Linked DNA regions of Homo sapiens. The protein of the gene in region 5 interacts with the protein of the main gene of each other region in a biochemical or structural test. Each region holds a gene or a part of one and is shown on either strand. Other genes may lie near its edges. The genes, in order: TJP1, PTPN4, APBA2, ARHGEF12, SLC15A5, SHANK2 and MPP3.

Region 1 (4,164 bases), on a different chromosome or scaffold from region 5:
GCTGAGGCAGGAGAATCGCTTGAAGCTGGGAGGCGAAGGTTGCAGTGAGCTGAGATCGTGCCACCGCATTCCAGCCTGGGCGACAGAGCGAGACTCCACCTCAAAAAACCAAATCAAAACAAACAAACAAAAAATAAATTAAACAATAGTAACCAAAAATAGAAATAGTTATATAAAGGAACAAAGTCATTTTAATAAGGTAAAAATGCCTATTTGTGCAGGACAATATCTCCCACTGCATCCTGAAAAATTTGACAGAATAAATCATTTTTCTGAACACCAAGAAATAGTCAATATTTGGCCATATTATCAAAAAAAAATTTTTTTGAGACGGTCTCGCTCTGTTGCCCAGGCTGGAGTGCAGTGGCACGATCTTGGCTCACTGCAATCTCCGCCTCCCTGGCTCAAGCAATTCTCCTGCCTCAGCCTCCCGAGTAGCTGGGATTACAGGTGTGTGCCACCACGCCTGGCTAATTTTTGTATTTTTAGTAGAGATGGGGTTTCACCATGTTGGTCAGGCTGGTCTTGAACTCCTGACCTCAGGTAATCCACTTGCCTCAGCCTCCCAAAGTGCTGCGATTACAGGCATGAGCCACGGCGCCCGGCCCAAATTATCAATTTTTAAAAGGCAGAAAGTCTTCTACCTTTCCATATTTATTTACAATATATGCACCACAAATAAATGTGAAAACACTGGTGATGCCTACAAGGCCACAGGAACAGAGATAGAGATTTGCTAACACACAGCATGGGCAGCATCATCAGCCCAGGTATTAATCAACGACAGTCCCCAAAGCTCCCAAAGGACAGAGTGAAGACAGCATACCCGACGAGGAGTCGGATGATTTTAGAGCAAAAGACCAACCGTCAGGAGTCATGGACGCACAGTGTGGTAAGCGCAGCTCCACAGGCTTCAGGAACTTGAGGCCATGGGGACCACACATCACCAAAGGACTCAGCAGTGTTTCACCTGGAGTTGGAAAAGGGGATAGGCAGAGAGGATGGATGTGGTCTTTCTTCTAGAATCCCAGTTTTCCTCACCCTGCTTCTAATTATATGCTTGAAAGCCTAATGGAGTTAGTTCTCTACAGTCGCACTGACCACAAAAAAACGTAACAGCAGCCACATATGGAATCTTAAATTTCCCAGTAGCCACGTTAGAAAGTAAAAAGAAACAAGTGATATCAAATCTTACAATATTTTAATATTTTAACTCAATATAACGAAAACACTGTTATTTCAACATGTAATCAATATATGAAATCTTTGGAACTTGGTGTGTATTTCACATTTCCAGCATCTTTCAATCCCAAATTGTCACACTTCAAGTGCTAGCTAGCCACGTGCAGGCAGTGGCTACTGCATTCAATCATATGGGTCTATAATAAAAAACATATTCAAATGTGCTTGTTGCGAATGTGATATATTTTCCATTTTCAAAATGTTTTGTTTGCTCCATAGGTGGTTAAAGAGATTCATGCAGGGCCAACACAGTCAGTCCTACTGGTTTTTAAAACAGGATATCCCCAAAATCAGAGTACAGAATCAGATGTCAGTATTCCGGCAAAATACAAAAAAGCGAACTAAATTTGTTTAGGAAGTAAAAGCACTGCTAAAAGATGCTAAATCACAACACACTTCGTTATAATATCCTGGTAGATCCAGGAGGATTATGAAAATAAGTTTCCTTAAGAAGCTCAGAAACATGCTGTCATCTCCTCTGAGACTCCTTCATGCACTCTGCTGAGCATGTACTAGTGCTAGGTTCTGGGGTGATGAATAAGACAGTACCTGTCAAGAGGTTTAGGTTCTCCAATCAGGTGAAGGCACAGCAAAGCCTTTCTGAGTGGGTGTTACCTAACCCATCTCCAGAGACGCAAAGGCTGACTGATTCAAAGACAAATTTGGTTAGGTCAGCCTAGGCTGCTCAGCAGGTGAGACATCCCGTGGCCTGTCCTATGCCATCATTTTTTATTTCACACCAAAAGTAAAAGCAGGCAGTGTGGTCACCACAGCCTTGCTTCAGGCCACCCACTGCTTGCTTGCAACACCGTCCCCAGGGCACCCCTCGCTACAGCACTCATCTGGAGATAGAGAGGTGCTGCATTATTAGCCAAGCACTATAAGCTCTGAAGTGCACACAGGGCAACTCTTAAGTTATCAAAACTAAGGAGAAAAATAAACACATTTACCTTTCTCTTTATCTAAAGGTGGAAGGATGCTGTTGTCCCGGCAGACCTTGAAATAGATTTCCTGCTCAACTCCTTCGGGAATGGCTCCTTGAGGGATAATTATACTAACACCAGTTTCTATGGAACTCAGCACGCCCCCATTGCTGTTAAATATGCCTCGGGCTGTGGCCACCACAGTATGACCATCTTCATCTTCATCCTCTTCCACAGCTGAAGGACTGAAAGTTCAGAAATGGCTAGTGAGTGAATTCCTAATAATACACAGGTGCTTTGCTTTTACTACTACTGTATTACGTGCTTTCACTTTTATTTCTCCATATAATCAAGAAGTTACTTTAACAAGATAAGTTTCTGGCAACAGATTTTACTGACAGGGTTATCGCAGAGAATATTATTTCTTTTTTGTTTGTTTGTTTGGTTTTGAGACAGAGTCTCACTCTGTCGCCCAGGCTGGAGTGCAGTGGCACAATCTTGGTTCACTGCAACCTCCATCTCCCAGGTTCAAGTGATTTTTCTGCCTCAGCCTCCCATGTAGCTGGGACTACAGGCGCACGCCACCAAGCCTGGCTAATTTTTGTATTTTTAGTAGAGATGGGGTTTCACCATATTGGCCGGGCTGGTCTCAAACTCCTGATCTCGTCGTGATCCACCTGCCTTGGTCTCCCAAAGTGCTGAGGTTACAGGCGTGAGCCACCGCGCCTGGCGAGAATATTATTTCTAGAGAAATTCCATTCTAGAAAATTTCAAAAATTCTAGAGAAATGTCAAAAATTCAATTTTTGAAGGCAATTAGTCAAACGACCTTCATTAATGAATTGCAACCTGAAAGTGTAAAATCTGATGCCTTGAACACCCAACTACAGGTGAAGCATCCCTAACCTGAAAATCTGAAATGCTCCAAAATCGGAAACTTTTTTTTGAGTGTCAAAATGAAGCTCAAAGGAAATGCTCATTGGAGCATTTTGGCAATATTCCAAAATCCAAAAAAACCCAAGATATGAGACACTTCAGAACCCAAGAAGTTTGGACAAGGGATACTAAACAGGTACAGAGTTTTATGAAGCACATTTTAAAATCCATGAAATTGGAACTTTAAAACTGGTAAGTCACAATTTAATTGGTAGCCCTGTTCTTCCCTTCCTGTTGTTTTTTGAAATGGAGTGTCTTGCTGTCACCCAGGCTAGAGTACAGCGGTGCAATCTTGGCTCACTGCAACCTCCACCTCCCAGGTTCAAGCAATTTTCCTGCCTCAGCTTCTGAGTAGCTAGGATTACAGGCGTCTGCCACCATGCCCGGCTAATTTTTGTATTTTTAGTAGACATGGGTTTTCACCGTGTTGGCCAGGATGGAACTCCTGACTTCCAGTGATCCGCCCGCCTCAACCTCCGAAAGTGCTGGGATTAGAGGCATGAGCCACCGTGCCTGGCTGTTCTTCCATTTTTAGTGACACAAAACAATGGTGCATCTCACGGCTGACAGCATCTCAGACTTGATAAAATCTCCCTAGGATTTTAAGTGTGCCTGAGTATGGTCCTGCCTCAGCATTCCCTGAGGACCAAGCGCCCGCTCTGGCTGTAGGAGGCAAGGCTTCCAAGGTTCCATGAGGCGAAGACCCTTGTATGGGCATATCCCAAACATCCACGAAAGAGAGACAGTAGATTAACTTAGTAATCACAGAACGCCAAAGGCAAAGGGGATGTGGTATCAATGACTGCTTCAAAAGTAGAGGCTATCAACTTCCTGAAAGTACAGTTTTGAGCCAGGGCTCAAAGGTGAGCAGAAAGACCAACGAAACAGAATTACATGAAGGTAGCTGCCGTTTCACTCCAGCATGACCGGAGTGCCAGGGACGACATCCTACGACACAACATCAAGGGAGCAGAGCGCAGCCTGAGCTGCAGAGCAGAGGCCAGCTCTGTCCGCCCCTGACCATCTGTGGATGTGCAGAGCTAGGAAGGCAGTGACCGCCATAA
Region 2 (4,164 bases), on a different chromosome or scaffold from region 5:
GGTCAGGAGTTCGAGACCAGCCTGACCAATATGGTGAAACCCCGTCTCTACTAAAAATACAAAATTAGCCAGGCTTGGTGGCACATGCCTGTAATCCCAGCTACTTGGGAGGCTGAGGCAGGAGAATCGCTTGAACCCAGGAGGCAGAGGTTGCAGTGAGCCAAGATCGTGCTATTGCACTCTAGCCTGGGCAACAAGAGCAAAACTCCATCGCAAAAAAAAAAAACACTAGTCAGCAGATCGAGATGAAATTTATTAAATTTTTCTTGTAACTTTTATATGTTTGAAATTTATTAAAAAAACATTTTTAAAAATTGGAGAACATGAATCCATATGTATATAATTTTATTTATTATTTATTTATATCAATATCAGGTTAAATGTCACCAATATTGGCCAGAACCCACAGGCAGTTCATCTTATGGATGCTACCAAGTTACCTGCCACTCTGAAGAAGGAAACACTGCCTATATCTTCAGGAAGATGACCCTATTTAACCAAGAGGTAAGAAGGCAGGATATCTGTTCATTAGAACTGTTGTGTTCAGGGTAAAGACTGAAAGCTGAAAATGTTTTTAGTTTGAGTATTGGTTGCTAGGAAATACTATAAGAATTATTGAATTATTTATCTGCTTTAATGGGGTACTTTGGAATTTTATTAAGAGTATTATCCTATTCTATTATAAAATTAATGTTTTTCTTTAGTTTCTATGACTAAATATGAATGGTCAGTGAAAAAGTAGTCTGGTAAATAATACTACTGTTACTACTTTGCTTATTCAGAACAACTGTTTAGATATGTTTCATTATAAAAAAAACTTTTACTCCAAGTAGTATCAGTACAGTATTTGGGTGTGTCTGTGGAAATGGAAAAAACAATTGAAAGCTATTAAATTATTTTCCTTTTTTAAAAGAGTAGAGGAGAGCAACTTCACAGTCCCCTACCTATTAAGAAGGAAAAGGTTGTAACCAGGACCTTCTGACAGCAGATGGGGTGTAGATTTCTAATTGCCAGCTCTTAATTTTGCCTGAGTCAGTCCTCTTGGCTTCAAATGAAACTGATTAATAAATGATGGCTCAGTATCCCAATTGGAAGATGTATGTAGAGAGCGTCATGCTGCCAGTTCTGTCAGGCTGCTAGAGACAGTGCACCCTACTTTCTCTGCCTGCAGCTAGCTATCCCCCTGCCACCATCTTTGGTTTTGAAAGGGACTAAAAGAATAACTGCTAGAGAAGAGCAAATAGCCCAAGCTATGAGTGCCCAGGACTATCCCATCAATGGTCAAGCCTTTGGAAATGAGAACTCCCCTCCAACCCCAAGAGCATGATTAAAGGAAACCAGAGAGACAGAGTCTTACTGACGAAAAGGGAAGAAGCCAGAAGTTGTGCTGATTTATAGAAAAGGAATCTGGCATTGAATAAAGCTAAAATGACAAGAATTTTAAAATTTCAAAATTTTATGGGCTAGAGTCCATCAGAATGAATTTAGGGTTTGGGGACATATACTGTGTAGCTCATGGTCTAATGTAACAGGTCAAGCCAATATGATATTTCTTCATTTTCTCAAATAGATAATGAAAGATAGGCTACGTATGTTTATATAAAATAATGTCTATCTTTAGCATAGTCTCTATTATACTCCACCTGTAGATTATCCATGACAGTTTTATATACCATAGTGGCTTTTCTTTACACACCCTGAGTACATTAGAACTAAGACATGAGTTAGTTTCTAAAGTTTGAGCCAAACATAATTGGGAAAATGAGTTCGCTCCCATAAATACATACATACATGGATGGATTAATGATAGCAGATACTACCTCAAGTCTTGAATACCTTTTACTTTTACTCTTCAGGAAGCTCTCTTCAGTGTAAATGGCAATAACCATAGTTATAATTATAGTGTTGAATGACTATAGCAACCATTTATTGAGTATATGGTGCCAAGTAGCTGATGGGGTGATTTACAGGTCCTCTCATGGAGTCTTTTTAGCATAAGACTGATCCTTTAAAGTATAGATGTTATTTCATTTTTCAGTTGAAGGAAATTATTTTCTGAAACACTGAATGCTGTAACTGGCAGAGTCAAGATTTGAACCAAGATGTATCTAAACGCAATACTCTTACTGTCTCCGTTATACCAACCTTGGCTCTCCAAAAAGAATTAATCCCACTGATTTGACTTTGTGTTTTTATTAACTCCAATTTTTAATATACATTTATCTTGAGATTTTATTTTTCTGATTTCCATAATTTCATCTGCATTGTGTGAGGATTAGGTCAGCTTTGTTCACAAAAAATGTTTTTTACTTTACCATTTTTGCTCACCCAAGAATTCATTAGTTTTTTTTAAGCATTTCTCTGGGTCTTAATTTGTTTCTACCTATGTACTTGATTATCATCTTTAAAATACTTTACACATATAGAAATTGAGTTATAAAAAGAGTAGTAATGTAATTAGCCATACTTAAATGGATACAACTATTTCTGTAAAATAGTTTCTTTCCTTTTTGTTGAAATTTTGCATTTTAATGAGTTTATACATAACTTTTGGTGGAGAAGAGGAGTGGTTGGTTTTGCTTTCCTTCTAAAATTCCAATGACATGAATATATTTTAAAGATAATGTCATAGTACCAACAGGTTCATATTCCTGCTGTGCAATAACAGACGAATACACTGAGACAGCAGGGATGCAGCAGATAAAGAGTTTAATGATCGCAGGGTACCGAGCAAGGAGATGGGAGGAGACCCTCAAATCATCTCCCCAAGGAGATGAGATCTGGGATGGGGTTTTTAAGGGGATGGTGGAGAGCAAGGGGCTGGGAAGTTAAGATCGTTGATTGGTTGGGATAAGGTGGATGAAATCATCAGGAGGTGCATTCTTTGGTGAGTTAGCTTACCTCAGGGTCCTTTAGACCAACTGAGTCAGTAGTTTCATCAGTATGCAGGACCCAAAAGAATGTCTCAAAGGGGAAATCTAACATTTCATAATGTCCCAAGTTGTTATCTGTAGAGCAGTTAAGGGGAACTATAATCTTGTAATGGGTCTGTGGGATTCTGAGGCAACAGGCACCAACCAACTATGAGGACGCGGGTCAGAGAGCAGCTGACCTAGTGATCAATGCTAAGTGTGCTGCAAGCTGTGTTTAGTTTTCTATCTCCCCCTCCCTTCTTTCCTGATGAATTTTATGAGGTTTGTAGGGACAATTTCAATAATACATAAGTCAAGGTGCATAATTTTTCATTTGTTCTTAGAAAAATGAAAGTCGTCCACTCACTCAGATCCAGTACATAGCCTGGCCTGACCATGGAGTCCCTGATGATTCGAGTGACTTTCTAGATTTTGTTTGTCATGTACGAAACAAGAGGGCTGGCAAGGAAGAACCCGTTGTTGTCCATTGCAGGTACTCTGTTTTCCGTCTTTTATGAGTGTATAGCTGAACAGATACGTCATTTTTAAAAGAGAGTACATATTTTGTCCTTATGGTGTTATTGTCACTGTAATAATTAGAACTCAAAGCTATGCTCTGAAGGTAGGAGGCAAAGGATATGTTCTAACATATGATTGGCAGTAACTTTATCATAAGATATAAAAATAATACTGATTGCACTGATTCTTAGATGCTCCTCCTTTTCATATTTTAACACCTCTGAAATTGGTCTTAACAATTTACAATAGATTTGATGAAGTACAGTACTGTGGGCTGTCTTAGTCCATTTGTGCTATGTAACAAAATATTCGAGACTGGGTAATTTAAAAGGAACAGAAATGTATTTCTTATACTTCTGGATGCTGGGAAGTTCAAGATCAGGGTACACACAGGTTCTCATGAGGGTCTAATGAGGACTGCTCTCTGCTTCCATTATGGCACTTTGTTGTGTCATTCTCTGGACGGGATGAATACTGTTTCCCCACATGCTAGAAGGGACAGAAGGGGTGAACCCACTCTCTGAAGTCCTTTTATATAAGCGCTTTAATCCCATCAGCCCTCATGACTTAATCACCTCCAAAAGGTCCCACCTTTTCTTTTTTTTCAGTCGGAGTCTCATACTGTCACACAGGCTGGAGTGCAATGGCATGATCACAGCTCACTGTAACCTCTGCCTCCCAGGCTCAAGTGATCCTCCTGCCTCAGCCCCCGGAGTAGCTAGAGGTACAGGTG
Region 3 (4,164 bases), on a different chromosome or scaffold from region 5:
TTGCCATTCGTGCAATGACTAAATGCTATTCAGTCCTCTTCAAAATATCCAGGACACACTTTTTCAAGCTGTAAAATGAGTAGAAGAGAGGGGAGGGTTGCTACACAATTTCCTCCAAGTGAGTCTCCTACAGCATCACAGCTGGAATGTGGCATCTTGTTGAAATGCAGATTTCAGATTCAGCAATGTGGGGGCGGGGCTCCCCAGTAATGCCAATGCTGCTGGGTTAGGGTTAAAAACAGGAGTCTACAGCATCTAAGTGACCAATATTGCCCATTTCTCCCTTCAGATTTTTTTTTTACTGCAGCCTCAACCATAGGGATCACTACACTATGTGGACAGCACTGGGATCAGAGAGGTGAGCATGGGACACATGGCACCCTGTGCACCTGCTTGAGGCCAGGCCTTTGTTGGCTCCTGGCACGGCCTGGCTGTCCCCCAGGGGAGGAAGGGGATTGTTCTTAGGAAAGCAGGTTGTTATTTCAAGCAAGGCAGCACCAAATCTCCCAGTGCACATCCTTCATAAAAAATCTTGCTTTCAAGATGAATTCTACGGCTCTTTCTGGTCAGGTTTCAAAGAGGTCCTCATCTGGAATGGGGTACTCAAATCTAAGAATGTGGAGACCCTGCCCACGTGCAGCGGGCCTGGTAGAGTCTTCAGAAAGAGTAGTCAGGGCCCCTGGCACCAGGGTACTTGTCAGCCTGGAACTCTGGAACTAGCAGGTGTTCCCCTTGACAGAATTAATTTGTGAACTGATAGGAAAGAAAGAAAGAAAGAGAGAGAGAGAGAGAGAGAGAGAGAGGAGGGAGGGAGGGAGGGAGAGAAGGAGGGAGGGAGGGAGGGAGGGAGGGAGGGAGGGAGGAAGGGAGGAAGGGAGGAAAGGAGGAAAGGACAGAAAGGAGGGAGGGAGGGAAAAACAAAACAAAACAAAAGCTATACAATCATTAACCAGTTTAAATGAACTTTTCCAGTGTCTCAGACAAGAGCATGTCCTTCAAGGACACATTCTCCTTAGGGGGAGAAGTGACATACTTTTTCATTCAATGCCTCTTCTGGGAAGAACAGACATCCTCTTGATCCTCCACAATGGCTGGGGACTTCCCCTACCTCCACCTGCCCTTTTAAACAGCTACTATCACCCATCCATCCATTCATTCCCACTCATTTACCTCCCAGCTCTCCAATCGCAAGATCTCTGTGTTTTTACCCAAATTACCATCTGGTTAGCATGAAGCACAAAACCAGAAAATATCAGGTCTTGCTTACTCCCCACCACGCTCTAAAGATAATCTTCTTTGACAAGAACTTGGCTAGCGATGCCATTTGTCACAATAAGACGCAGCATGTCACACGCTCTGCACAGCCCACGTCAATCCCTGAGGTGCCTTCACCACTGTTGTGGGACAAGCCCAGGCCCTGCTAAAGACCAAAGAAACACTTTGCTTTGGCCTAAAGCCCAGACCCAGGGTCCAGAGCCTCCTGGCCTTAGGGGTGAACTCTCCCAACACCCACTAGTACCATGGGAGCTCCTATGCATCCCACAGCCCCCTGTAAACACGGAATTGCTGTGAATGACAGGAACACCCCCAAAGTGAAGTCAACTGACACTTAACGTTCTTTAGAGAGAATACAAGACATTAAAATACAAGTGCTGAAAATCCAGGAGTCAATTAAAATATAAGTGCTGAAAATCCAATGATTTCCATTCCAAACCCAAGCTCTCAGTACACACACACACACACACACACACACACACACACACACACACACTCAAATTCATGAACTCTTCTCGGAAAAAAATATTTAACAGTTAAGGCTGTAAAAAAATATGACAGAAGTCCACATAATTGGCCAAATAGAAGTTCCTTCACACAAGTCCAATAATCACATCTTCTTTATATACTCACAGTGAGGCTTTTTTTGGAAGGTGGCTTTTCAAATGTGTTTATTAGAATGCACGCTGACTTTGCTATAATTAAAATACAGTTATGCTGACATCCACTGCCCTCATTAGCATGCGTTTCTTCCCCGAGGTTTTGTCAAACCTTCAAAAAATCCTTTTCCAAATAGGTATTCACAGCTGATTGCCCATCAGGCCAAGGCCCCCGGGCTTTCAGAGACCCGTCCATTGTGAAATGCACTCTGGCCCCGACCCCAGCCACCAGGCCACCCAACACTGGCCGCAGCAGTGGGTGAGCACCAGCACCCCCACGTCTTTGCCACTGCCCTGCTGGTCTGAGTACACCCCTGAGGATTGAGGGGCTCTCCCACACATACTGCCCCACCATGAGCAGACCAGGGCAGTGGGCAAGAAATCGAACCTCTCTTCTAGGGTGGGAGGAGGGGTGTCTTCTGCGAGACACGAGTTGCCACTCAGCCCTCAACCGGCTTTAGTCCTGAGTCTGAGCGGTGAGCTTAAGAGTGGCCGGAGCATCCACGCAACATGTCTCCCAACTGGACCAATGAAGAGCTCAGCCACCATTAGAACTGTGAGGCACCCAGCACCCCCCACCGCCTCGCTTCAGCATCTGCAAGGCCTGTACCCTGAGGTCCCTTGCTCTCGGGCCCCTCTGCTCCCTTCCCCAGGACAGCCAGGGTCCTACCTGCTCGTGGGGCCACTTCAGCCTCTCTTCTGGGGTCCTGGTCTTGGGCTTGAAGCCTCTCTGGGGGTCTCCGGGGTGCTTGGCCTCGGGAAGGAGGTTCAGCGACTTGGGCCTCGCCTCGTGCCTGCTGGGGCTGCAGCTGGCCTTGATGGGTGGGCAGGCCTCTACAGAGTCCTCAGGCCCTGGCTCAGGCCCATGCTCGGGGCTGGCCTCACTGGCGCTGGTGATGCTGGTCATGCTCAGACTCATCTTGATCTCTGCCACGATCTGGTCAATGTCCTCCTCCTGGTCCTCCAGGTCCCCATCCCCACGCCTCAGGCGGTAGGGGGAGGCGCCGGTGTTCCCGTTGGCCTCCTCGGGGTAGTAGTCCTGGTAGCCCTCTTTGCTGGCACAGTAGTGACCATCTTCTTCCTGGTCATGGGCCTCAAGGACGGAGGGCTCATCCTCCGGAATGGGCAGTTGGCCGTCTGGGTAGTCCTGGCTGCCTTCAGCCTCGTGGCCGTGGGGGTGCGGGCCCGCCGAGTCCGTCCACTCCTCCACCGCCTCCTGGCACTCATCAGTGTCCACAGGGTGTGCACTGTGGGCCAGGTACTCCTCCCCGTTGCAGTCCATGCCCTCTAGGTAGCTGTCGTCCTCAGGGCAGTAGCGGATGTAGTAGGTGATGCCCTCCTCCTCCTCAGGGAGGCCCTCGTCATAGTCCTCCTCCTCAGAGGTGTTGTTCACGTAGTCAGAGCTGGAGTCCCCATCGGGGCTGTGGTTGTGGCACTCCTGTTCCTCTGGCGCGGGGCTCTCTGGCCGCAGGGCAGCCAGCTCCAGGCCCTCGGGCACATAGCCCTCCAAGGGCAGCTCCATGTCCTCGCTCTCGGGCTCCTGGCTGTGAGGGACAGGACCTGGTCTCACCCTATGGTCCAACATGCCGCTCCCCACGCTCTCAAGCTTCCGGTGGGCCATGGCAGTCGTTCACACAGCCATCATCACCCGGAGGCAGCCACTGTGGGGAGGAACATTGGGAAGGACAGAGTCAAAACCCCACAAAGCCCAGCCATGTGTGGGGCCACTTCACCACAGCACCTCCCACCACGTCCTCCCGCAGCCATGTGAGGGCACATCTGTTCAAACAGTGCGCCATCCCCACCCCCGCTAACTCATCATCAGAACAACACGCATCCACACCAAGGAGAACGAGGGCACACAGAGCTCCGGGAAAAGCAGTCAAGGGAGGCACCGGCAACTCACGAGGACACACGCCTCTCCCCAGGAACCTACCGGCTCATTCCTGACTTCTCACTCAGTTTGGGTAGCCCAGGTGACCAAGACAAATGGTCAGAAGATCAGGTTGTTTGCTCTCACGAAGAAAATGAGCAGCTTTCATTAAGAAGACATAATGAGGACCAATGAGGAGGGACAATAACTCTTCCCAATCTAAATCCATGACCCCTCAAAGACTATCTTGGGTACCTTCCCCTTCAGGCTTATCCCATCCTCTCCCTCCTCTTCCCCCTCAAACTGAACAATGTTCACCGAGGAACTGGATGCGCAGGGACCATCCAGGCTGAGCAA
Region 4 (4,164 bases), on a different chromosome or scaffold from region 5:
TACTATTTAGAACTCCTCAATAACCAATATCATGCCTCTATTTTTTCTTCTATATAACTAGAATAATACCCTAAAGGTACTTCTTAAGAATGTTGAAAGGCTGTGTTAAGCTAGACAGAAAAAGCTAAAAAAAAGTTCTGCTTTTTCCAGATCCAGACACTATATGCATATTATTTCCTCTAATTTTATGAGATACATACATTTACTGAAAATAAGAACCAATTTAATTTTGAATGGGCCAAGTGTATGCTATGAGGTCACCCAGACAATGATAGAGTTATTGGGACAATGTTATTCCAACCATCAGAAATTATTAAGACTGTTAATTCAGGAGAAGGTATAAAAAATATTGTAGGTTTTAAATAACCAATTCTCTGCTCTCATCACTAGCTTAATGTCTGTCATGTTTCTTTAGGCAACAGGTTCCACTTAGGTCTCTCATCCTCTGTCCTTCTGCTCTACAATCACTTCCTGAGAGATGCCAGGAAGTCTCATGGCTCTGATGCTCACATCTCTATCTCTTCCTAACCTCTCTCTAAAGTTTCACTCCTAAAACTCTAACTTCCTGCTAGTTACTCACTTTTTAGTGTTTTGTCATTCATTATCTTAATCTTGACATGCTTTAAAACTGAGCCTATAATTCTACCAAATCAAAAGAAAGAAAAAAGAAAGTACAATGGAAGGAGGTGGGGGAAGCAGTGGTAGTCCTTTTCTGACTCTTATTTCTGACTAGATTAATGAAATTATCTCTAAATATTCCCTTTCCTTTGACCTCACATTCAAAGAAGTCAATTATTTTAAGCATTTGATGACTTCTCAGTTTCTTCTTATTCCTTCTGATAACATTCTAGTCCAAACTCTTTTAGTCTCAGGCCAGACTATTATAATAGCTTATTTAGTAAGTACACCATTCCATACCTCTTTCCATTCAAATCCTTCCACCGCTTTCAGCCAGATTAATCTTTTTTCATACCTTTAGTCATACGCTGGTTTAAAAATTTCAAGTGGTTCTCCCCAGCCAAAGAAATTGTTCTCAGCCTTTTTCCCACCTCAATACAACTGAGAGATATGCTATCCTCCCATTTTAACAGTGATTCTGAACCAGGCAGGGGGGTGGGGAGCTAACAGAGTGGCATGTGTGTGTGTGCCTGTGGCATGGGCCACTGTAGAGAATACTATAATCTCCACAATAGAACTAGAAGAATAAGTGGAGTTTGATAAATCCACATACTTTAGGGATGGCACATGAGTGTCATACTTAGTAAGTATCTGTAATAAGTTATGAATAAAACTTACAATTTCTTAGTGCATCCAATGCCCACCGTTCTTCTGAGACAGGCAGGTGTGAATCTGGGATTGCGATTTGATAATCTTCTCCAACTTCCTTTAGTGTCCCATCTGTATGTTGTTCCTTTGCAAACTGTCTCTCAGCCACAAACAGATCACGTACCTCTGATTTCCCAGAGGTACTCAGTGAATGAGACTGAGGTTTTGACGATATTAAGGTAGATTCTAATCCCAAATCTCTGTCTGTCCAATGGAATAGAAAAGGTAGACTATATCTAAACAAAGCTTTTAACTTTTAACATGAAGCATTCAGGGAAGAATCAGAAAAAAAAAAAACAATCCATAAACTACAGAGATCATCTGTTAAGAAAAATACACATCACTTAGAACAGTGTTATACTGACACACAGAAGGCTCAAAGGCAAAGTTTGTTAAACTGAATCTCTGATGCTGGAACCTGCATAAACCAAACAGTATTAAAGTTTCTTTGCATTTTATTTTATTTTCTTTTTTTTCTTTTTTTCTTTTTTTTTTTTGGTGTTTCGGTCTTGTTGCCCAGGCTGGAGTGCAATGGCACGATCTCGGCTCACCGTAACCTCCGCCTCCTGGGTTCAAGCAATTCTCCCTGCCTCAGCCTCCCAAGTAGCTGGGATTACAGGCACCTACCACCATGCCCGGCTAATTTTTGTATTTTTTAGTAGAGACAGGGTTTTGTCATGTTGGTCAGGTTGGCCTCTAACTCCTGGCCTCAGGTGATACGCCTATCTCGACCTCCCAAAGCACTGGGATTACAGGCATGAGCCACCACATCCGGCCAGCATTTTAACAGATAATAGAGCACATTCTCCATTGAACTCTTCAGAAGAGTGTACCTGGACTCTGCAAACCAGTGACTGAAATGCCATGCTGCTCCTCTTTTAATTTTGAAGGATCTTCTTCATCATTATCTCCTCTGTAGAGAAAAAAAAAAAAAAAAAAACTTTTACCTTCCTGAGGTATCTAAACATCATCGCAACAAAACATAATAATTATCCTAGTCTTTTCCAACCCAAAACATAAAATAAGTCCTACTACAATGCAAAGGAACACTCACTCGCCAGGTGTTGACTGTGGTAATGGAATTGGCTTTGTGGATTGCTCCTTCACTGATGCAGCCATCCGACAGATTAGGTCCTGCCAGCTTCAGAAAGTTGGAAAGAAATCCAAAATACAAAAAAGAAAAAAGAAATATCCTTTAAATATACTCAGAAAGCAAAACTAAACAAAAACCAAATCAACCAACAACAACAACAACAACAACAACAACAACAACAACAAAACCCACTCTGCCAGAGAATATCTTTATTTTGGCAACACACTATTAAGGCGAGAGTCCAAAACTATACCTTAAGAGAAATCTATGGACACATTAAAAAAACTTCACTTGACATTTTGCACAATTTTTTCTTTAGGAAATAAACTTTCAGAATAGAATCAAAATAAAAGGCATCAACCTAAAAAAGAACAAGTTCATAGTAGAACGTCTCTAAAAGAGTACAGAGGAAGTGCTTGGTTTCCATACATTATAAAAACAAAGTTAAGTTTATGGAATATTACGCTTGGGATAATGAAAATATTAGCTATAGCAAGGTAGCCATATCTGATACATACACAGTCTTTTCAGAAACTGTCTGTGCCACCAGTTCATAAATCTGAGCGCCATTGTCTGACATGGAAATGACGAATAAAGCTTTGTTATCTGGAAAAAACAATACAAGATTACTCTAATACTATGACCTGGGGAGGCCATGAGGGATGTTTTTAGGGTCTTGAAATAGTCTGCCCCTTAAACTAGATAAAGGTTACATATATTTACTTTAAAATTCATCAAGATGTACACTTAAAATTTGTGCAACTTACCATATTAACGTATTTATTGTACTATATTTATTGTACTTCAATAAAACAAAGATTATACGAATTAGCACTAATTCCACAATAATTTACTAGAAACTTTGCTAAAAGCATGTCAAAAATCCAAATTACTGGCCGGGCACGGTGGCTCACACCTGTAATCCCAGTACTTTAGGAGGCCGAGGCAGGTGGACCGCTTGGAGCTCAGGAGTTCGAGACCAGCCTGGGCAGCATGGCGAAACCCTGCCTCTACATAAAACAAAAAAATTAGCCAGGTCATGGTGGTGCATGCCTGTAGTCCCAGCTACTCAGGAGGCTGAGGTTGAAGAATTGCTTGAGCCTGGGATGTGGAGGTTGCAGTGTGCCAAGGTTGTACCACTGCACTCCAGCCTGGGTGACAGGGTGGGACCCTCGTCTCAAAAGAAAAAAAATAAATAAATCCAAATTACCAGATTAAATGCTATTACTCTTTTGCATTTATTTTGAACTGCACTTTTGCTAAGTTGTTAGTTAATAATATTCAGTGAGTAGTGGAGAAAAGAGGTCACAAATTTATTTTGCCACCATGAAACTAACAAGTTTTAAAAGGGACCCCGTTGTTAATAGAGTTAAAATATAACTTGCCAGTCAAATTTGATTTTTAATCAACACTACATCCGTCTCTTTGGTTTTTGATTTTTTTCTCACCAAATCAAAAAACATACCACCCTAAATGAAAGGCTTTTCATTGGGATCTATCAATGATTTGAACATAAAGAACCAAAGTAATAGCATAAAAATTTTCAAATGCAGAAAACTGTTCACAGAATCGAGACACCCTAATAACTTTGGGGTATAAACTCTTAGGTCTCTTTCTAAGCAGTAAATTTCATGTAATTTGCTTAAGAATATAAAAATAGCAAGACTCTATGCCACTTGTGTTATTGAGACAGCACCGAGTATCTTATGCAACTTCACAATGAATCTGGAAATTAGTATCCTTCA
Region 5 (4,164 bases):
AAATGTCAGGTGTCATTGCATTATGAAGGTAAGGAACTGGTATTCTGTGCTACTTGCACATAAGCTTTTGAGGTTAGCTATGGGCCATGTAGTAATTTTGTACTGTTTATCGGTTCCTCCAATCTAAGATGTTTTATTATATTAATGCTTACATATATGGGTAATATTTCTGCTGTATTCTGTTTTTGTGCCTACTGCTATTATAGAGTCAAGAGGGAGTTTGAATCTTCTAAATCAGACTAGCTTTCATGCATTATTTAGTCTAGAGGTCAAGAAATTTTCTGTAAAGGGCCAGATAGTAAATATGTCCACATATGGGTTCCGTGGCAATTACTCAACTCTGCTATTTTTGTGCATAAGCAGACATAGATACGACAAAACAAAGAGCATGGCTATGTTCTGATAAAACTTCATTTATGGACGCTAAAATTTAAATTTTATATATTTTTCTTTGCTTTTTCTCTTTTTTTTTTTTTTGAGATGGAGTTTCATTCTTGTTTCCCAGGCTGGAGTACAATGGCATGATCTCTGCTCACCGCAACCTCCGCCTCCTGGGTTCAAGCGATTCTCCAGCCTCAGCCTCCCAAGCAGCTCGGATTACAGGCATGGCCACCACACCTGACTAATTTTGTATTTTTAGTAGAGACGGGGTTTCTCCATTTTGGTAAAGCTGGTTTCGAATTCCCGATCTCAGGTAATCTGCCTGCCTCGGCCTCCCAAAGTGCTGGGATTACAGGTGTAAGCCACCACGCTGGGCTAAATTTTATATAATTTTCATGTGCTAGAAAATACTATTCTTTTTTTAATTTTTTTCAAACATATAAAAATGTAAAAATCTTCTTAGCTTACAGGATGTACAAAAATAGTGGACTGGATTTGGCCTTCAGATAGTGGATGGCTAACCCCTGGTTTAGAGGGGCAAGCACTGTACTGAGAGGCAGAGGACAGATTCCGCTTTCCCTTACACTACTATTAACTGTGACCTACGGTGCCTCACCTCTACCAAAAGAAAGTCACTTAATTTTTCTGAGCCTAAGGTTCCTGTTTAACAAATAAAGTAGTTTATGAAGTTAATCTCTAAATTTTGTTGCAGCTCTATTATTCTATGATTTCTAAATGTAACTCATTCATGAGTCTTCTAAATTCCAAGTTGGGAGTTAGCAATGAACAAAGTCCCAGATTTGTTCAAATACTTTTGTAATCATTTATTTTTCTCAGTAAATAAGTTAGTCTTTAACTCTAACCACATTAAAAAAATTTAAAATCACATATATCTATAAAAGGTACTTTGGGCTTTGTATTTTCTCTTGATTTTCTCACAGCACAGGAACGAATTCCCCAAGGAACTAATAGAGTGGGTGGGGAGAGAATCACTTGCTCATTAGTACTTATATTTAAGAGTACAGTGGAGGTGGTACTCAAATCAGTCAGTTTAGCTACTCGTTAGTACCACTTTCTAAAGGTTTAATGAGGGAGGAAGGCAAAACCTTTGGCTAAAGGGAAGTTTGGTAATTGCCTACAGATCTGATATGTTCGTGCACTGCTCTTACGCCTTACGACTATGCATTCTGAAGTACTGTCTGCACCTACTGACAGACATTTATAGCTCCACAAAAGAAACACATCCCAGGGTCTCCTCAGGTATACCTCTGCCTGACCCCGCTTAGCTCTGGAAATCAGAGCCTGTAATGATGAGAAGTTTCTGTGGGGATAACTGCCTGCCGACATATATGGAAAGCGCTCGTTGGGGAGAAAATTCACCTTGACTTGCACTGTTGACATGCAATCACTTTCCTGTTGTTGGGGTAGTACTCATCGCCTGTCCTTACCTGCATAATGCACATTCTGTATAGGAGCTGAAAAATGAAGAGAGGGAGAAGGGTGAGGAAAAATGTTGTGTCTTCTACATGGAGCTCACTGTAGCAGCCACCATTTTTTTCTTTGGCATGGTCTAACTGGCTTGTCACGTCTCTGCCAAGATGGCAGTATTGCGGGTGGCATGTTTTCAGTGCACTAACCAACACCCCAACGCCTGTCAGGAGAGAACAACCTGCAAGTAATCGGAGATATTATGTATTAGTATAGGAATTGTTCTCCAGTTTTTCAAGATGCTGATCAGAAAGATAACGATTCAAGGATTCACGGCAGTGAAGTGAGAAAGTTTTTAGCACCCAAGGGGTCGGACTCAAAGGACCACGCTTCTGACAGTGATTCTGGCATCCTGATGACCAGCCCATGGTGGCACCTAGCAGTTGATGTCAAAAGTGTAAAAGGTAAGATCAATGAAAACATATTAAAAGGGAAAGAAAGGTGACAAAATAATACGCCAAAGTTAAGGACTTCAGAATCTCTCAGAAGTCTCTAACTTTAATGCATTAATGAATACAATAAACTGAACTTTCTTTAACATCCTTAACACAAAGAACTAGTACTATTTTTTCATATAAATTATTATATAAATAATCCTCATTTTACTTGGCAGGTAGAGGGTGGCTTCTTATTGTGACATGGAGATGAAGGGAAATGTAATCTCTGCTTTGACTTTATCCTTGGATTTAGAAATAAGGTTAGACTATGAACTCTCTAAATGATTTTATGCATGTTGATAGTGTCATTAAGAGTTCAGATTAGATTAGTTGGCTTTTGACTTTTCCAGTAGTTTCTTCTAGGTTTACATGGCTGTTGCTGCACGATCAGAAGCGCTTTATTGCTTCAGATGGCAGCAGTCACTTACTGCTAGTGATTTGCAACCTCATTGTTGCTTCTTTTATGATCTTTTAGTTCCTACCTTTTCTTTGACTCCATTAGGATTTCCTGATACAATGACAGATAAGAGACCCCCGTTTAGGCAGCAGTTCAGCTGTGCTGTCATGATAGTTACAGGTTTTCATAGCACTCCCTTTGACCAGATAAATCCCCCCAGAAATTACGTAGACACCAAACTACTGTTGCCAGGTAAATGGCATAATAAATGTGAAAATGTTTGTGTTTCTCCAAAGAAGGCTGCTATAGAAACTCAAAGTATAGTTTGAAAGTCATTTTGATTATGTTCAAGTTTCCTATAATAAAATTCTAGATAAAATGCATTCTAATGAAATTCATTTATATGCCATAGAGTCTTGGTTTTTATGTTTAAATAAAGAATATGTATTAATATATTTTTATAGCTATAAAGTGGTTAGATTGATTTGATCTGGTCTTTTCTTCAAGAGTTGTAATAGACCCATTATGTCAGCCTTTGATTAATTGAGGAAGCTGGGGGCCTGGTAATTGAATATGGAGCCTTTCACCTCTAAGTCACTGAATCAAATCCAGCCCAAATTGGTAGTGACCAAGAATGATTACAGCTGTGGCTCTTTGGTGGCCTTTGTGAAGTGTGTTTAGGTCATCTGGGAGTATGTTGGGATACTTGCTAACAGGAGATAGGCTTATATCTATGGTCACTTTTGTCTCTTCTTAGTCACTATTGCCTGAAGTAGATGAAGGCCCAGGTACTGGTAAGGCCAAGAAGACAGAAGCCACTGTGAGAGGCCAAGATTTGTTTCTCTTAGGAAAGAAGTAATAGGGACTGCTCTTTATTATTAGAGAATGAACTGCTCTATTATGAGACTTTCCTAGCTATTTCAATTAGTTTACTTAAGGTTTAGGTAAGATGAGAACAGAGAATGTGTTGATGAACAGTCTGGAGACTGAATTCGAACAAGCCTGGGCTGGGTGGCTTAACTTCCTGACATTTCCTTACAATCTTGTCTCTATTACTCATCAACCTGTTCTCTGCTAAACTCTTGCAGAGTGGTGCTGGGTAGATAGTAGGGTTATTATGAACACTGATCCAAATTAACTTTATGCTTTCAGATAGGTTTGATTATTAAATGATAAGTACTTGCAGGATGAAAGATTATTTCCAAAGATATTTTCCCCAGTTTCCCCCCAATTTTTAAAATTCAGGAATTTGTATTAAATATAATATATTTTAAACTCACTAACCGTTTTTTTGTATAAACAATCACTATTTGTTGCAAGATAAACTTGGATCTGCTTCTAATACATGACAAATTGATACCTGCAATCTTATTAAATTATTAAATATTGCCATCATTTTATTTCTAATGAGAGGTAGTGGTAGTTCAGATTAGTGCTTTTCAACCTGTGTTAAAAATGAGT
Region 6 (4,164 bases), on a different chromosome or scaffold from region 5:
TAACAATAGATTCGTGCTCATACATAAAAAGCTTCTGGGTCCTTCAAAATGCTAAGAGAGCAAAAAAGATTCCTTAAGCTAGAAGTCTGACAACCACTGTGCTACCTCATCTGCTTTACCTGAAAGTGAACAGAAAAATAAACTGGTGTGCCACCCAGGAGGCAATCTGGAGGCCGGGGAAGCGACCGGTGCCTTCTTCTGCACGGTGGAGTGGGCAGCCGCCAGGTGTGGATCCCAGCTGGGCCACACGACCTTCGGCAAGTTCAGCCACTGGAGCTGAATGACCCTCGAGGGAGGGAAAGTCCAGAACCAAGACGAGGGGCAGTAGCGACGCCATCGGGTCAGTATCTTCCCCTGCCAAAGTCCCCTGGTCCATGCTTGGGGCCACTGTAGGACCTTGAAATGCAGACAGGAGCAAGGCGTGGTCCCTTTCCTGGGGGACCTGTCCACCTCGTGAGGAGGGGTCAGACAGGAGCCCGGCTGGCCCAGGGGCAAATGCCTCTAGTTTGCAGGCCCCTGTACGGGAAGAGGGGAGTGGAGCAGATTCTTCAAATCCCAGGGACATTTGTGCGGGGTGGCAGGAAAAACATGGACAGGAACGGCTGAGCCCTATGCTCTCAGGGGTACAAATGAGGCCACAGAAGCATCCCCCTCCACTCCCCAGGAAGCCTGCATTCTCCCCAGGGAAGGAATCCAGGGCAGGATTTTCAGGAAAGACAGGCTTGGAAGCTCATTTCCCACCTCCCAGGAGCCCGGAAGTCTGTGTCAGCTCCAGGTCTGGAAACCCAGGATGCCCTGCACCCCATTCCTTGGGCCCTAAGCCTCCCAGGACCCACCCCAGTGGACCAGGGAGCAGACTGCCAGCTGTCCAGACTCTTGGCCATTCCCCACCCCCACCGAGGACTCTAGGTGCTGACTCTGGATTCTCCTTGAGAAGAGGAGGGGACTGATGAGCCGGAGTGAGGAAGACGTGGGGCAGGACACCCCCAAGTCTGCAGGGAGGCAGCAAAGCCTGGCAGTATGCAGAGCACACACCTGGCATCACATGTCACTGCCTTCACGTAAGTATCATCACTGTCCCCAGGTAAGAATCACCTGCAGGACCTTGAGTACAGGTGTAATCTTGTGAACTAAGATCTCCCTTGCAGGGGGCTTCAAACTGAGGTGCAAGGACCCTTTCCACGTAGACCCAGCTCAGTCTAAAGGGTAGCCAAGTCTTTCCTGAAATTGCTCAGTGGAGAAAGGCCTTGGATCCCCTGCCCACCTCCCCTCCCTAACATCCCTGAGGCTCTTTTACATAAGAAAGGCATAGCTATCCCCCGGAAGCTGGTGAGGGGGTGGTGCAGCTCCAGGTGAAGGGCCCTCCTGATACCAAAACAAAAGGGCTAATGCAACTAGGGCTTCAATTAAAACACCAAAAACACCCACTGCCTTCTCACTCAGAGAGGCAGCTCCAGTAACAGCTCCCCTTTTCCATTTCTAAAAATCTGTAATATATTTATAGTTTTTGACCAACTGCGCCCCAGCAATGACTGTACAGCTTTTTCAATTCAGAAGTAATTTTTTTAAATACTTAGCAACTCCAGGTCATGGGAAATTTTATGAAAGTCAATTTATGTATATTTTTCGTGCAGAGAAGTATGCTAGGTTGATTAATAAAAGACCCATGAGCATAAAAGTCTATTACATTAGGATAAAATTCTTTGGGGAAGTGGCTGTATAAATTCAAGAAAAGAACGATGAAAATGTCCTAAAGCTCACTTACGTATCCGTCAAGAAAAAGTGGCTGTGAGTCACGATGGGTTTATATCACAGTGGGTAAAGAGTCAGGCAACAGTTCCTTTTAAAATATCGATATTTACCTCACAGAGGTACCGTAGCCTTTACAAATATTTAAACCTATAAAGAAAAATTTTAGACGTTGACTTTAAAATGTGTGAGAAGCTTGGTAAATGATGAATGGCACAATCTGAAAGGAGTTTACTGGCAATTGTTTCAGCTTTGCTGGATATTTGAATTTTTCATAAAAAATTGTTGCAGAAAATGTATGAGAGAACAAGCTGTTTTTTTTAAAAAAAACAACACTTTCAGGGACAGACAAAAAAAAAAAAATGGAAGAGGCAGGCCCCAGCCCAGCAGGGCCATGGCAGAGCTGCAGTGCTTATGACCTCTAATGCACGCCTCCTGGGGGGTCTCTGGTGAGGCCTTTCTAAGTCCAGCAACTCAGGGCTGCTCCAGCTGATCTTCCTCTCCCTCTGGGGGAGCTCCCGTGCTGCCTTTCTGCTGCAGCAGAATTTCTGGGACGGGGAGCCAGGAGCCCTTCTGCATTCCACCATTTGGAATCTGCAGCCTCAGATTGGGAGTTTGTGGCCTAATTCCATTCACACGCCCCTCACTGAGCTAACCCCAGAGTCGCTACCATACCCAGCAAGGACAATTTTAAAACACTGTCCCCAGTCGTGCTCTGGTGCAGTGCCGGGTTTGGCAATGACATCTGGCAGCCAATCGGGGAGCCCAGCATGTCCCTGCTGCTGCCAGCAAACTCCTGGCAGCCCCACAGGCTTTTAAGAACTTAATCTCCCAGGGAGCGAGCTGCGTTTCAGCCAGTCCCTCCCTGAAGGCCCATCCCCGGCATATGTGCATCCAGAGAGACCCAGGCTATGGTCCCTAAACCCAGGGCAGGCTCTGGGTAGTGGGCATGGGCCCATTGTCCCCCGCCCTGCAAAGAACAGAAACCCTAGAATGCAGGGAAGGCTTGCATCAGAGGCGACTGTACCCCAAAGCCCAGCATCAGTACTGGCGCCATGGCCAAGGAGACAGCCGTCCATCAGCGGCATCAAACCAGTCCTTGAATCTGCCTTCAACAATGGAAAACGTGGGGCACATCAAGAAGTATGATGAGAAACTGGTTTTCACCTGCTGACCGCAGCGCGATTTCACAGCACGGGAACCAGAAGACTAATTTTCTAACCGCTGCCTGGCGGCTTTCTCCAGCTGGGCAGCGTGCATTTAACCACCGGGCGGTGTGGGGTCAAGGGCTCCCCTACCCACTAGCTGTGTGGGCTAAGGCAAGCGGCTTCACTCCTCTGAGCTTCAAGCTTCTGATCTGTGAAATGGGAATCGTAATGAATCGGAGCTGGCTCATTGGACTTCTGAGATTTACTGAGGGAATAAATAGCAAGAGTGTGGCACTAATGCCAATCAAAAGGAAAATGCTCGGTGAGAGTCTCACTACCTGCGCTGCAGCTCCTGACGTTATTATTGTGACTAGCGGGTGGCTCTGTCCCCACCCTGGGAACAAGGACTGGGTCATTCTGCCAAAGGCCCATGTTCAGTCCCAGGAGGATGCAATCAAACAACCCAGACCTCTTCCAAGGGTTTGTATCCCCCCACCCCACCCCACGCTGGGTTGGGGACCCTTTCTATGCCCTGCAGCACTCGATGCTCACCTCCATCACAAGCCCTGTCACAACACGGACTAACTGGACTGTCCAGTCACGCCTCTTCCTCCCCATTATCCTAGAAGCTCCCGGAGGCAGCCCTTGTGGCCAGTCCAGGCTTGGATGTGGCAGCAGGCCCTCAGATGATTATTCACGCGGAAAGAAACAAATACACCCTAGATATCCTCTGACCATGAGAGAATGACAGGCCTCTCATTTTGGGTGGGAGGTTAGGTGCAGTGGCCAAGTCACAAAGGTCACTTAGCCCTGGGGGGCTGCAGGCTCCAAGCCCTGCACTCAATATGCTTACAGCCTCTCAACAAGTGATTCATTCTCCCGGTGCCCAGGTGAATGGCAAGGGGTGGGGGACTCCAGAGATGGAAAAGACCCGCCTTTGTCTGGAGCGATCCTCCCTTCTCCCCTCTCCTTCCCTTTCTTCCACAAATTCCCCAGTCTATAGAAACGGACAGGGTCAAGAACTTTGCTGGAGGTCATGTGGAGGCAAGAAGATTCTCAAGGGTCCCTCCCTGGGGCTCACAGTCCCAGTTACAGGAGAAGTGGAGGCTCCTGAAGAGGCTGTGCGCGTCCATTTCCACTGGTTTTTCTCAGCCACACCCTCCCTGCTGCCCCAAGGAGGGGCCCTCAGACTCCAGGTACAACAGCCCCAGGTGAAAGCTCCGGCTTGAGTTTACAAAGCAGGAGGCTGGAATTGCAGGCAGGTAAG
Region 7 (4,164 bases), on a different chromosome or scaffold from region 5:
AACCACCCAGGGTATGCCCTGTGTTCTTTCTGTGGCATCTTAGTCCAACCTCCGGTAGAGGTGCTAGGGTCACTTTTCCAACCATGTCATCCCCCTGCTTAAAAACTTGTATTTATCTATGGGTTACATTCTAAACACCCTAGCTGAGTATCTGAGACCTGCGTGATCTGCCCAACCTCTCAGCTCCATTTTCCAGCACACCATCCACACTAATCTCCCCGGTCCCCAACACTGCTCCGTCCCTTTGCACATGTTGTTTCCTCTGTAAAGAGAACTATTCCTTTCTCTTCTGCCTGGAAAACTCCTATTTACTCTTCAGAACCCAGCATAAAAGTCACTGCCTCTGGGAAGGCTTCCCTGACTCCCCCAGTTTCTAAAACAAAGGAGGAAAGTCTCCTATCTGTGGAGTGCCTAGAAGCAGGTGGGCCTGACCATCCAGGTACCTCTTCTCCAGGGGGTGGATCCAAGGGGTTCTGAACGATCAGTGTGTGAGCAACCTCTGCATGTCCTGTTTCAGTCCACCTGAAACTTGGAAGGCCGTGGCTCCCTGAAGCCCTCCAGGTCCATCACAGGTGTGCTGCCAGGATGGCCTCCCCAGGGCCACCACCTCCCCCACATCCCTGCCACTTCAGATTGGGCTGTGGAAGACAGCTCTGACAACCCACAGACTAGACGCTGGGCCCAGGGGCCCAGGGAGAGCGGTGTGATCAAAGCAAGGCTTCATGGTTGCTCTGCCCCAGAACACTCTGAGGAGGCCCCATTAGGGCCCCCACAGCACCCCTCTCAGTAGCCACCAGGCATTCACACTGCATCCCTCTGAGGCCAGGGGGACTGAGAGTGAGTCCCAGAAAGAAAAGGGGCAGCCAAGGGCACGAAGTGGGAGGCGGCAGGTGAGAGGCCATTGTGCATCCTCGTTAAGAACATGACTGGGGCAGGCTGCCTGGGTATGAATCCTGGCTCCACCACTTACCAACTGTGTGACATTGGACAAGTTACTTAACCTCTCTGACCCTCACTGTCTTCCTCTGCCACACAAGATGATAACAATCTCTCTTCTCAGGGGTACTGGGAGGGCTGACGCAGGGCACTACACATAAAAGCTCTTGGTGCATTACCTGGCACCTTCATTCTCCTCCTCCTCATCCTCCTTATCACATTCAGAACCAGGATCCTCTGCCCACTGGAGCTTGACATCCCAGGGTGCCCCTGGCAGCAGTAAGCCCCAGGAATTGGCAGGGGAGGCATCACCCAGGAATGTACCCAGCTACCCTGACAAACTGGAATCTGGCTATAAGGGAGTGCCGAGAAATACCACTCACAGGGCTCTGTGGCTTCTCTGACCTGCCCTCTCATCCAAGCAGAGGGCAGCGGCCACAGGAGTCAAAATTCACTGTGATGAGGAGGAATGCCCCCTACTGTGGGGGCCCCGTGGTGTCAGGTTGAGGCTGCCACTTTGCCTACAATGTGCTCTGGACTCATCTCCCACCCCAGGCAGGAACCAAGCAAGTGGTCCTCCAACTTCTGCCTCAGAGGGTCTCAGAGGACCACTGGGAGTGGATTTCTTCCCATCATGCCTTTGTCCCACAATTTGCCAATAGCAGGCAGTGCCTGGTGATCCTTTAAACCCAAAGTAAGGATTTGGATGGATCTGGGGAGTTAAGTCTCCATGGAATATTTGTGTGTGTGCAGACAAACACACACTCCCACATGGGCCCTCTTACGTGGAACAGCGACGCCAAAGTGCTGTGGGTTCTCAGCCACCACCTTTTGCTTCAGCTCGTGCAGTCGGGCTCCCAGAGACCCTGGGAAACAAGAAGAAGGCTGACCAGGGTCCCTGCTGAGCTCCCTCCCCACCTGCTCCAGGGAGGAAACCAGATCACTTCCTGGAAACCCAGGATGGCACCTACCGATCAGAACCACCAGGCGGGGCCGCTCTCCGGGCTGGTGTTGGTACCTGGCCACCTCTTCGTAAGTCAGCAGCTCCGGAGACTCAGCTCCGGAGGACATCTTTCCTTCCTGCGAGCCACCCAGTCTCTCCCTACAGCCCAGCCGGAAGCTCCTCCGAAGACCAGCTTGGGAGGAGGGGCAGAGGGACACCATGGCATTTGTCCCAGTTGTCCCAGGATCTCCCAGTAGAGACTTTTCCCACCTGGCCAGACCTGGAGATGGGACTGAGTCCCACTGACTTCTCCCAACCTCCTCCTGCTACTGGAAGAGGTTGTTCAGGAAATACAATAATAAGATGAAAGGGTGACCCCTGCATTCACAAACTAGGGCTTAAGGTCACTGTTTTACTTGGCATGTGACTGACCTTGGACAAGTCCCTTCATCTCTCTGAGCCTCAATTTCCTTACCTGTGAAATGAAGATATGAATCTACAACTACTATGTGTGGTCCTAGATTAGATCCTGGACCAAGGGAAAATGTCATAAAGGACATGATGGGGACAATTGTTAACATTTAAATAACAGCATATAACAGATTTGGATACATTTTAAATTCTCAGAATTTGATCACTGCCCTGAGAAAGTCCTTGGCCTTAGGAAATACATGCTGAGAGATTTAGGGTTAAAGGGACACGATGTCTACAACTAAGTCTCATATGACTCAGGAAAAAAAAATTCAGAGATGTGGGAAAGGAAATTGAGCAAACATGGCAAAGGAGCAACTGGTGAATCTGGGTGTGGAGTATATGAGAGTTCTTTGTATAATTCTTACACCTTTTCAGTAAGTTTGAAATTACTTCAGGACAAAAGTTAAGGGGCTGGGTGCAGTGGCTCATGCCTGTATCCCAGCACTTTGGTAGGCCAAGGCAGGCAGATCACTTGATCTCAGGAGTTCAAGACCAGCTGGGCAACATGGTGAAACCCTGTCTCTACAAAAAATACAAAAATTAGCCAGGTATAGTGGCATGCACCTGTAGTCCCAGCTACTAGGGAGGCTGAGAGGGAAGAATCGCTTGAGCCTGGGAGGCTGAGGCTGCAGCGATTTGTGATCACACCACTGCACTCCAGTGTGGGTAACAGAGCAAGACCATATCTCAAAAAATAAGTTTAAAAAAAGTTTAAAAACTTTTTAGAAAGGAGGATTGCTTGAAGCCAGGAGCTTGAAACCAGCTGGGCAACATAGCGAGACCCCATCTCTACAAAAAAAATTTTTTTAATCAGCTGGGCATGGTGTCAGATGCCTGCAGTCCCAGCTACTCAGGAGGCTGAGGTGGGAGGATTGTTTGAGCCTAGGACATTGAGGCTGCTGCAAGCTGCAATGTCACACACTACTGCACTCCAGCGTGAGAGACAGGGCAAAACCCTGTCTCTAAAAAATAACCAAAAAACAAAAAAAACTTTTTGCCTATCTCTAAGACCTTTGAAAAAACTGACCAAAACAAGTGAAAAGGGGCTCTGGAGAGCCGCAAACACCCCTCACTGCGTGGTAGTGGTGTTAATATTGAATAAACTCCAATTGCAATGATGGTGATAATAGAATTGGTATTAATGTAGGGGTGTGTGTGCCTTTCCCGCCAGGGCAGTGTGCCCCACAGCTGGGTAAAAGCTGGGTGGGGGCCCAATGCCTGGGCAGGCTCAGCTCCTGCTTGGGTTGAGAGAACTGAGGAGAGATGGGGGTCCCATAGGCTCCACTGCTCCAGAAGGACTCCTGGGGCTCAGATCACCCTGCTTTGACCTCTCCCTAACTCTGGGGCCTTGGGTGGGGCAGGTCGTGCATGTGGGTGTCAGGGGGAGCTACTTACCCACATAGTGCCCTTTGAGGTAGCCCTCACAGTCACAGGTCTCTGGGAAGCAAACAGAGGGAGGGAAGCCAGTGAGTCCCACCAGACACATCCGGCCCAGGGCACCCAGCCCCTGGATGGCCAGGCAGGAAGAGCCCCCTGGGATGGTGTCTCGTGGGGAGCTCAGGGGAAATCCCATGTCCTGGACACCCCAAGAAAGCAAGGTCCTCTGTTTTGCTCAGTTCTCCATGCTTAGGCCCCTAACAGCCTTTCCAGGCCCTGAGGGGGATTCTAGGCCAGCAGGCCTCCCCAGTCCCTGAGTGTGAGCAGTGTGAATAGGGAGGGATTCACTCCAGCCTGCCCTGCCCTCCCACCCCTTGTCTCCTATCCAGCCCCATCACAGCGTAGCCGAGTCCTGGAAAGGCTGGGCCGCACGT

What was found.
Region 1: the proteins of SLC15A5 (region 5) and TJP1 interact in a test that uses a peptide from one of them, tested with the Homo sapiens proteins (one large-scale study listed by IntAct).
Region 2: the proteins of SLC15A5 (region 5) and PTPN4 interact in a test that uses a peptide from one of them, tested with the Homo sapiens proteins (one large-scale study listed by IntAct).
Region 3: the proteins of SLC15A5 (region 5) and APBA2 interact in a test that uses a peptide from one of them, tested with the Homo sapiens proteins (one large-scale study listed by IntAct).
Region 4: the proteins of SLC15A5 (region 5) and ARHGEF12 interact in a test that uses a peptide from one of them, tested with the Homo sapiens proteins (one large-scale study listed by IntAct).
Region 6: the proteins of SLC15A5 (region 5) and SHANK2 interact in a test that uses a peptide from one of them, tested with the Homo sapiens proteins (one large-scale study listed by IntAct).
Region 7: the proteins of SLC15A5 (region 5) and MPP3 interact in a test that uses a peptide from one of them, tested with the Homo sapiens proteins (one large-scale study listed by IntAct).

What each region holds. Positions count from the first base shown.
Region 1 is NC_000015.10:29,703,336-29,707,499, forward strand, and holds part of TJP1 (tight junction protein 1), read right to left. Parts: intron 2,411-4,164; coding exon 2,193-2,410; intron 971-2,192; coding exon 827-970; intron 1-826. UniProt on the Homo sapiens protein: TJP1, TJP2, and TJP3 are closely related scaffolding proteins that link tight junction (TJ) transmembrane proteins such as claudins, junctional adhesion molecules, and occludin to the actin cytoskeleton.
Region 2 is NC_000002.12:119,962,241-119,966,404, forward strand, and holds part of PTPN4 (tyrosine-protein phosphatase non-receptor type 4), read left to right. Parts: intron 1-375; coding exon 376-504; intron 505-3,256; coding exon 3,257-3,405; intron 3,406-4,164. UniProt on the Homo sapiens protein: Phosphatase that plays a role in immunity, learning, synaptic plasticity or cell homeostasis. Regulates neuronal cell homeostasis by protecting neurons against apoptosis.
Region 3 is NC_000015.10:29,053,276-29,057,439, reverse strand, and holds part of APBA2 (amyloid-beta A4 precursor protein-binding family A member 2), read right to left. Parts: intron 3,596-4,164; 5' UTR 3,556-3,595; coding exon 2,605-3,555; intron 1-2,604. UniProt on the Homo sapiens protein: Putative function in synaptic vesicle exocytosis by binding to STXBP1, an essential component of the synaptic vesicle exocytotic machinery. May modulate processing of the amyloid-beta precursor protein (APP) and hence formation of APP-beta.
Region 4 is NC_000011.10:120,475,522-120,479,685, reverse strand, and holds part of ARHGEF12 (rho guanine nucleotide exchange factor 12), read right to left. Parts: intron 3,026-4,164; coding exon 2,938-3,025; intron 2,468-2,937; coding exon 2,381-2,467; intron 2,240-2,380; coding exon 2,160-2,239; intron 1,531-2,159; coding exon 1,297-1,530; intron 1-1,296. UniProt on the Homo sapiens protein: May play a role in the regulation of RhoA GTPase by guanine nucleotide-binding alpha-12 (GNA12) and alpha-13 (GNA13). Acts as guanine nucleotide exchange factor (GEF) for RhoA GTPase and may act as GTPase-activating protein (GAP) for GNA12 and GNA13.
Region 5 is NC_000012.12:16,242,751-16,246,914, forward strand, and holds part of SLC15A5 (solute carrier family 15 member 5), read right to left. Parts: intron 2,274-4,164; exon of another isoform or gene 2,081-2,273; intron 2,051-2,080; coding exon 1,830-2,050; intron 1-1,829. UniProt on the Homo sapiens protein: Proton oligopeptide cotransporter.
Region 6 is NC_000011.10:71,245,414-71,249,577, forward strand, and holds part of SHANK2 (SH3 and multiple ankyrin repeat domains protein 2), read right to left. Parts: intron 1-4,164. UniProt on the Homo sapiens protein: Seems to be an adapter protein in the postsynaptic density (PSD) of excitatory synapses that interconnects receptors of the postsynaptic membrane including NMDA-type and metabotropic glutamate receptors, and the actin-based cytoskeleton.
Region 7 is NC_000017.11:43,812,290-43,816,453, forward strand, and holds part of MPP3 (MAGUK p55 subfamily member 3), read right to left. Parts: intron 3,791-4,164; coding exon 3,749-3,790; exon of another isoform or gene 3,291-3,748; intron 2,355-3,290; exon of another isoform or gene 2,073-2,354; coding exon 1,908-2,072; intron 1,803-1,907; coding exon 1,722-1,802; intron 1-1,721. UniProt on the Homo sapiens protein: Participates in cell spreading through the phosphoinositide-3-kinase (PI3K) pathway by connecting CADM1 to DLG1 and the regulatory subunit of phosphoinositide-3-kinase (PI3K). Stabilizes HTR2C at the plasma membrane and prevents its desensitization.